Homo sapiens: one gene and its partner. The protein of the gene in region 2 purifies or fractionates together with the protein of the main gene of each other region. This does not show direct contact. Each region holds a gene or a part of one and is shown on either strand. Other genes may lie near its edges.

Region 1 (3,825 bases), on a different chromosome or scaffold from region 2:
TTATCTCTATTGGTCAGCTCATCTTTTTTCTTATTGATTTATAAATTAAGAAAATTAGCCATTTCTTTCCAGTTTGAAATTCACCTTTTCGCTTTGTGTGAACAAAAAGGGAGTGTGTGTGTGTGTGTATGTGTGTGTGTGTGTGTGTATGCATATGCTGTACAGTAGCTTAAGACTTTGGAGTTGTCAAACTTAGTCAGTTCTTTATGGCTCCTGGATTTTGTGCTTTGGTACAAGTTAGTGGTTTCCAAATGTGGAATCTCAGCACCCTGTGGTACTGCAGTCAGATGGAGGTGCTGCAGTAGAAATGTGCTAATAAAGAAGACCTGGGGTTTGTGAATAATTTGCTTTTTTAAAAAACAATACGCTTAAGTTTTTAAGCCTGGTTAAGGTGCATAATCCACAGCATTTTATATCTATGCCAGCACAGTAACTTTCTTAAAGCCACAAGACTATTTTGTTAGTATGAATTCCAATCTTCTGTGCATCAACAGCAGGAAAAAAAGCTGATTCATATTATGAAGATTAAATAAATGTGAAGAGCACATGATTATTTTCTCAAATGTAGGCTGTGAGCTGCAGGTAACACCCAAACAGAGGTTTTATAGAGTGAAAGGGGAATGCCAGCAATTACCCTTGCACTTGTTCCTGATCAGCTCACCTGAGAGGTGACAGGTTCTAACTGCATTTTCCACCAGCTTCCGGAACACTAGGAGGACCTTGGCAGGCACAATGTCTCCGTCGATGTTCACATCTGTCTCATGCCACTGCCACAGGCTCTTCATAAACTGTTCCACCTCCAGCCACTGCTGCAGACCCTCAGGGTCCCGCAACGGGCAGGGCAGCCTGGTGCCCTGCAGTGTGTAGTACCGCCAGTGCTGCTCCCTGGCCTCCCTGTACCCGGCCAGGCCTTTTATTGGGACTGTGACGAGGAACTGACTGGGAGCCAAAACCTAGGGTCAGGAAAGGATTGAAAACAAGCATGAATTCACAGATTCGGGAGGTAACGGAAGTCCTGGGAACCAACCTGTCTCGTCAGGCAGCTCTGTTAACCACTCCACCCTCAGCAGAGTGACCAGATACACGGAGACCTCGACCTGGGTGTTACAAGTGGATTACCTCTTTGTTCTGCTACTGAATCATTGTAAATACTTCGGGCAAGTAAATTAACCTGCTGAGTTTATTATCTCATGAATATACAAGTAAAGACAGTGAACTAAACCAGGAACTCCAGAGGAGACCTAAGGTTTGAGAAAGAAGAATGAGTATGCATTCAGTTCCATGCAGACGCAACACCGTAATTCTAATGCATTTGACCATTTCAACTTCACAGTCACACAGTAAGGTGAGCTTTCTTGCCATTTTCCAGATAAGGAATTCAAGATGCAGAGGGGCTTGGAGATCTCCTCAGGGACACACAACCAGTAAGTAGAAGAGTCAGAATTTGAATTTAGGTCTTTGGACAGCTTGTTCAGTTATTATTTCTCTACCCTGGGCTGGCACTCAGCCAACAATGAATGACATGGAATGGTGAATGTTTTGACACAAATTAAAGGTGGGAAGTAACAGGAGGGGACGTAACAGATTTTGTAAAATATCTCCTTTTTTTTTTGGCCTGTACTGATGACCTATGGTCAGTGTTCATGACTAACCCTTCCAAAATAAAGGCAAAATGAAAGCTTATTTGTTGAGACAATGTGAGCTGTTGAGATGATTCTAAGCTTAAAGAAAAAAGCAAACAATCAGAATTTACCTAGCCCCTTTCTCCAGGAACCAGTGAAGCAACGACTGGGGGAAAGCAGGCAGACCGGCAGCCGAGAGGTAGAACAAGTGGGTAAACAGAGCAGCCAAAGGAGCTTGAACTATGACCATGTCCCACTGCATGCACGCCTTCGGCTGTGAGTCAGCTGCCTCCTCCTCCTGGAAAGCTCTGACCATGGAATTTGGTTAACTCTTGCCCAGGGCCAGTCATTGACCCATTGAGTGGGGAAAGCCCTAATCAGCTCCAGCTGGTTCTGTCTAACTCTAAGAAAACAATAGTTTGATGTTTTAGATGATGTATCCACATGACTTCTGGTACCCATAGAAAGGCAGCTGGATTTAAAAAGAGGAAAAACATCTAAAGTCCCTGGAATTTCAGATCTGTACATTATTTCAATTCACTTTCATGTGAATTCAAAAGCACAACTATCATGTTATTAGTCATATAAGTGGTGCTTAGTAGATATTTGTTGAGCAGCTTGGGCAATATGATGAAATCCATCTCTACAAAAAATAAAAATAAAAAAATTAACCAGGCATGGTGGCATTTGCACTTGTAGTCCCAGCTGCTCAGGTGGCTGAGGTGGGAAAATCACTTAAGCCTGGGAGGTTGAGGCTGCAGTGAGCCATGATCGCAGCACTGCACTCCGGCCTGGGTGACAGAATGAGACCCTATCTTTAAAAAACAGGCAAAAAAGCAAAACAAACAAAAACTTGTTGATTTTGATCTAAGTTAAAAGCAATTTTATATGCTATGCTGTAGCTATTTTCAAAACTTAATATGTGAGACATGACATATATAAATGCAAGATATATTTTAAGCTATGAATTCTAAGTGGGACCACTGAAGGAAATTTCCTTGGGTATAGTGCTAAGAAAAGTAATGTAATATCTCTATTTCTAGTCACTGGTCTATGTGTGTCCAAGTTAGATTGGCTTGGGTGGTAGAGTTGGGCAAGTGATATTCTAGCATTCCAGGATTCAGTCTGGTTTTATAATTTTCACCCTGGGATTAATTTCCTACAATCTGAGTCTGTTTCAGAATCCACAAATCCCAGAATCTCTTAGGTGGTTCCTGCGTCCACCAACCTTGAGATGTAATGGGCCAGCAATGGTCTTTTGCTCAGGTACTAATTCTTTTACTCATTCATTTATTCATTCATTCCACATATGTTAAGTGTCTACCATGTGCCACATACCATGCTGGGTGCTAGGAACAAAACGAATAGTAAACTTGGTCCTTACAATCGAGGGATGTGCAGTCTGTTGTGAGAAATGGGCCATGAATACATACAAATTTAATACAAAGTGAAAGAGGTAGGTGGCATAATAAAAATCGAGATAAAGAATAATGGAGATTCAGAATGATTCAGGATCTCACTTCTCTTACCTCTAAAATGGAAATGAACAGATTGTCTTTTCCACAAGGTGGTTTACAGGTTTAAGTAAGGTCGTTTCTCTGTGTACAGCTCTGCCCTCACTACTGTGTTGCCTGAATGCTGGTGTTACCCATTGGCTTACACTGGGTGGGATTCTTTAGCAGGGAGAGGGGTTGCCAGTCTGCTCCTGCAGCTTCTCAGTGGCACCTCTTCTACTTTCTTCCTTCCCCATCTGCAACCCACAGACTGACTTTCAACTGTCTTCTTATGGATGCCCTCAGTTCCCTCCACCCCACCCCCAATCTATTAAGTAGGTGCTTAATAAATGAATGTGTATTTAACTGAGCTTTGATTGTGACAGCGGAATGTGCTTTGGAATCAAAAGCCTCTGTGTGAGTTCTGGCTTTAGTGCCTGATATGACTTGATCAAGTCATTTGACTTCTCTGAGCCTAGTTTTTCTCATCTAGGAATGTGGGGGCTCAAAGGAAATAACATCTATCTTTTTTTCTTTTTCTATAGAGACAGAATCTCACTACATTGCCCAGGCTGGTCTCAAACTCTTGGCCTCAAGCCATCCTCCCACCTTGGCCTCCCAAAGAGCTGGGATTATAGGCATAAGGCACCCTGCTGGCTGAAATGACATGTATAAAATGAGACTGTAAATAGTAAAAACTAAGAATACCT
Region 2 (3,825 bases):
AGCTAAACTAATTTATAATTTAAGAAGTGGTAATAGCAGCATTTGGAAATAGTGATCAGTTCAAGACAACACTTATAATACAGCATGTATTGCTTGGCAACTAGACTTAGTAGAATACTGAAGTACAGTCTTTAACTTTATGCACAAGGAAGGGAAATTCAAGACACTTATTTGCTTGAATTGACAACTAGTACTTTAGGAGATCAGTATGTTGTGGTCCACGCATTAAGACTCAGTTAATCTTGAGTACCATTCTCAACTTTTTTTTTTAAATTTTCATTCTCAATTCTTGACATCACACTTTTAGAGGAACACAGATAAATTAAAGTACTAAGATAAAACAAAAACAGGCTGGGCGTGGTGGCTCATGCCTGTAATCTCAGAGCTTTGGGAGGCCAGGTGGGAGGATCGTTTGAGGTCAGGAGTTTAGGACCAGCCTAGGCAACATAGTGAGACACTATCTCAACAGAAATCCAAAACAAAACAAAAACTAAAACCAATGTCTAATGCATTCCTCAATGCCTACGGAGTACACAGCACAGGGCACCACCAATTAGGTATTTAATAAATATGTGTTGATTCAAACTGCCAAAAGATTAGAAGACAGACAGATAGTTTGTAGGGGAGATCTGATAATTGCTTTCAAAATGCTAAGATTTATCATGTAGACACAGGATTAGGTTAATTATGCATTGCCTTTTAAAGACAGAACTTCGATAATTGAGAAGAACCTATAGGAGGCAAAATTTACTTCTAAATAGAGGAATTTTCTGACAATTTGAGCTGCCCAATAATAAAAAGGGCTATTTAAGGAACCTTGTTTCTGTAAGTATTCCCTAAGGATGAATAATTACCTTTTAGGGATTAGTCATAGATAACACCTGTATCCTGAAGATGCCTGGACTGTACAATCTCTAAAGTTTTTCTAAAACTTCTCTTTTTAATTTCTTCTACCAATCACCATTAATTTGTGATACTGAAATGCAGTTTGAACTTTTACCTGTATGAGGCAACTTGACAAAATGATGTTCCCACACAACTACTCTAGGCCCCAAAATGAAAACTGCCCTTTATGCTTTAAAATGTCATGTTAAAAGTTCCAAAAAATATTTGTTAAGATTTAAAATTCTATTGATTACTTTATAGGCTTAAGAGGTTCCAACAAAGGAAAAATAAATTTTTATTACAAGCATCTATAAAAGAAGATTTGGACATGACAGAAAATATTTCATAGTAAGACAATTATTACTTGCATATTCACCTGATACTGGTATGGATTTTGGGAAATTGACGAGGCTGGTCTCTGATGCACTTTGAAGCTCTCGAAGCCGAGTGAGGTACTGCTGCTGCCCCAGAGCACCGTCTTCACCATCAAATGGTCTTTTCTGAGCAAGCCCTTGCTTCTGAAATGTCAACTTCAAACCACCTTCCTGTTAAACAAATACCATTATTAAGACAGAAACTGTTAAAAAAAATCTTATTGCAGGATATTAAGAGAATTTTTTTACTGAGGAAAAAAAATGAAGTAAAAATCCTGAAACATCAAAGAAGTTCATTTCTCATTCATAAATCAGTCAAATAAAAACATTTTAAATCAATTTCTATAATAACACCAAATTTTCTATTTTGAATGAAAAAAATACAAGTACTCTACACACTTTTCTGACCAAAACAAGATGTTACTAGTACACTGTAACATTTTTAACTTTAGACATACATCTCTATGTACATTATTCATATGACATTTTGGAGGACATTAACTATGTTTTAGACACTAAGTAATAAGTTAAGCTTCAAAAATCATTTAAAAATGAAACAATACTGATAACAGGGCATGCTAAATGTTTAAAACAGAAAGTACACTGACATACTATTTAAATACTATATAAAAGAACCAAAACAATTAGAAATTGCCACACTGTTTAAGAAAGCATTTTGATTAGAACTATTTTCAGAAGCATAAAGAGAAAAACATATTTAATGACGATCCCTCTAGTAGAATATTCAAGTTTAATAACCTGGATATCAGAAAGAAAATAATCCAAATACCAAGAAACAGGTATGTGAAGGAAGGAAGAGTAAGAGCAGGCAGCCATTTGCAGGAAAAGCATGCTGCACACCGCAATCGCAATCAGGCCCTAGGGCAATAAAAATACACATACGTCTTTGATTTTCACTGTAAACTCCTTTTCTCGTACATGCTTCTTCACCTTTGACATCTGTGTTGACTGATCATGTTCTTCTTTAACACCGGCACCTGGGGGAGTGGGTACACTGGGATCGCTGTATTCTGTAGCTGCTCCAGGGCTGTCCAGCAGTTTTGTGGTATAGAAAGAAGCCACTGTGTTAGCATCATAACTTCTTCTAGCTGAAGGCCACTTTCCTTTCAGAACTGTTTGACAAATACTGTCCAACCTATTGATCATCACACGATCCTAGAAAAGCGTGCAACATCAAAGTGTAATTTTAATAATTAGATCAGACCTTTGGAGATCAAATAGCTCAAGAGTCTATGGATTTAACCCTAGTTCAACATATGTGTATGTGCTATGCATACATATTCTCGTGTATATATATATTACAATTCTGCAACAAGTTATTTGAGTACAGATTCCCTTTGGTGAAGTTCAAAAATATTATACCATAAGCAGGCGTGGTGGCTCACACCTGTCTGTAATCCCAGCACTTTGGGAGGCCAAGGTGGTAGGAGTGCTTGAAGCCAGGAGATTGAGACCAGCCTGGGAAACATAGCAAAACCCTGTCTCTGCAAAAAATTAAAAAATTGTGCCACTATACTCCAGCCTGGGTGACAGAGTAAGACCGTGTCTCACAAACAAACAAACAGACAAAAAATTATACCACAAAGATAGTTTTATTTTTGCTGTTATAATTAAAAAGTAATACAGACTCCTAATAAGTTCAAACAACTTAGACGTACACAGAAGAGGAGAAAACCCTCCATTCTCCCATTTCCCAACCTCATTCTTAAAGGTAAGTATTCCAGCACTAGTCTAGTCACATAATGGAAGAAAAATTGGTCAGGTGCACTGGCTCACACCTGTAATCTCAGCACTTTGGGAGGCCGAGGCAAGCGGATCACTTGAGGTCAGGAGTTCGAGACCATCCTGGCCGACATGGTGAAACCCTGTCTCAGCTAAAAATACAAAAATTAGCCAGGTAGGGTGGTGGGTGCCTGTAATCTCAGCTACTTGGGAGGCTGAGGCAGGTGAACTGCATGAACCTGGGAGGCGGAGGTTGCAGTGAGCTGAGATTGTGCCACTGTAAGCCAGCTTGGGCGACAGAGTGAGACTCAAAAAAAAAGGAAGAAAATCTGTATTAATTCAATCTTTCTTCTTCCACTGAATGTACATGTATTTAAATGAACTTTTCATTCTAGGTCACAACTGGCTACAGTAAACTTCTTCAAGGAGACTCAGTCAAAAGCACCTGTTTCATAAAGAAGCACTTTAGGATTAACTTGAAAGTAAGGATTCATTATCTTTTATTCTAAACATTCTAAAGTTATGTTGAGAAGCATACACATTAAAGCAGAACTATTTACTTGATAGCAGTAATTTATACTTTTGGAGCTAACACCAAAATGTCATCCTACATTTTACGCTGACCTATGTTTCCACATAGTAAGAATATCTACCATTGAAGCAATATAGAAAAATACTAAAAAATGACCTATCCCAATAAGAAATTATTTCTTTACCTTTGGCCAATACGAGGCTGCCAGCATATATCCACCTTGTAAGATATAAGCAGACTCTGGTGTCCCATTGTTCATCTGAAAACTATCCTGAGTCTCATCCTGGGTAG

The links.
Region 1: the proteins of CHD9 (region 2) and MAB21L3 purify together in Homo sapiens (co-immunoprecipitation; one large-scale study listed by IntAct). This does not show direct contact.

Annotation. Positions count from the first base shown.
Region 1 is NC_000001.11:116,121,194-116,125,018, reverse strand, and holds part of MAB21L3 (protein mab-21-like 3), read right to left. Parts: intron 3,700-3,825; exon of another isoform or gene 3,661-3,699; intron 2,889-3,660; exon of another isoform or gene 2,804-2,888; intron 1,425-2,803; exon of another isoform or gene 954-1,424; coding exon 662-953; intron 1-661.
Region 2 is NC_000016.10:53,306,291-53,310,115, reverse strand, and holds part of CHD9 (chromodomain-helicase-DNA-binding protein 9), read right to left. Parts: coding exon 3,719-3,825; intron 2,436-3,718; coding exon 2,163-2,435; intron 1,431-2,162; coding exon 1,262-1,430; intron 1-1,261. UniProt on the Homo sapiens protein: Probable ATP-dependent chromatin-remodeling factor. Acts as a transcriptional coactivator for PPARA and possibly other nuclear receptors. Has DNA-dependent ATPase activity and binds to A/T-rich DNA.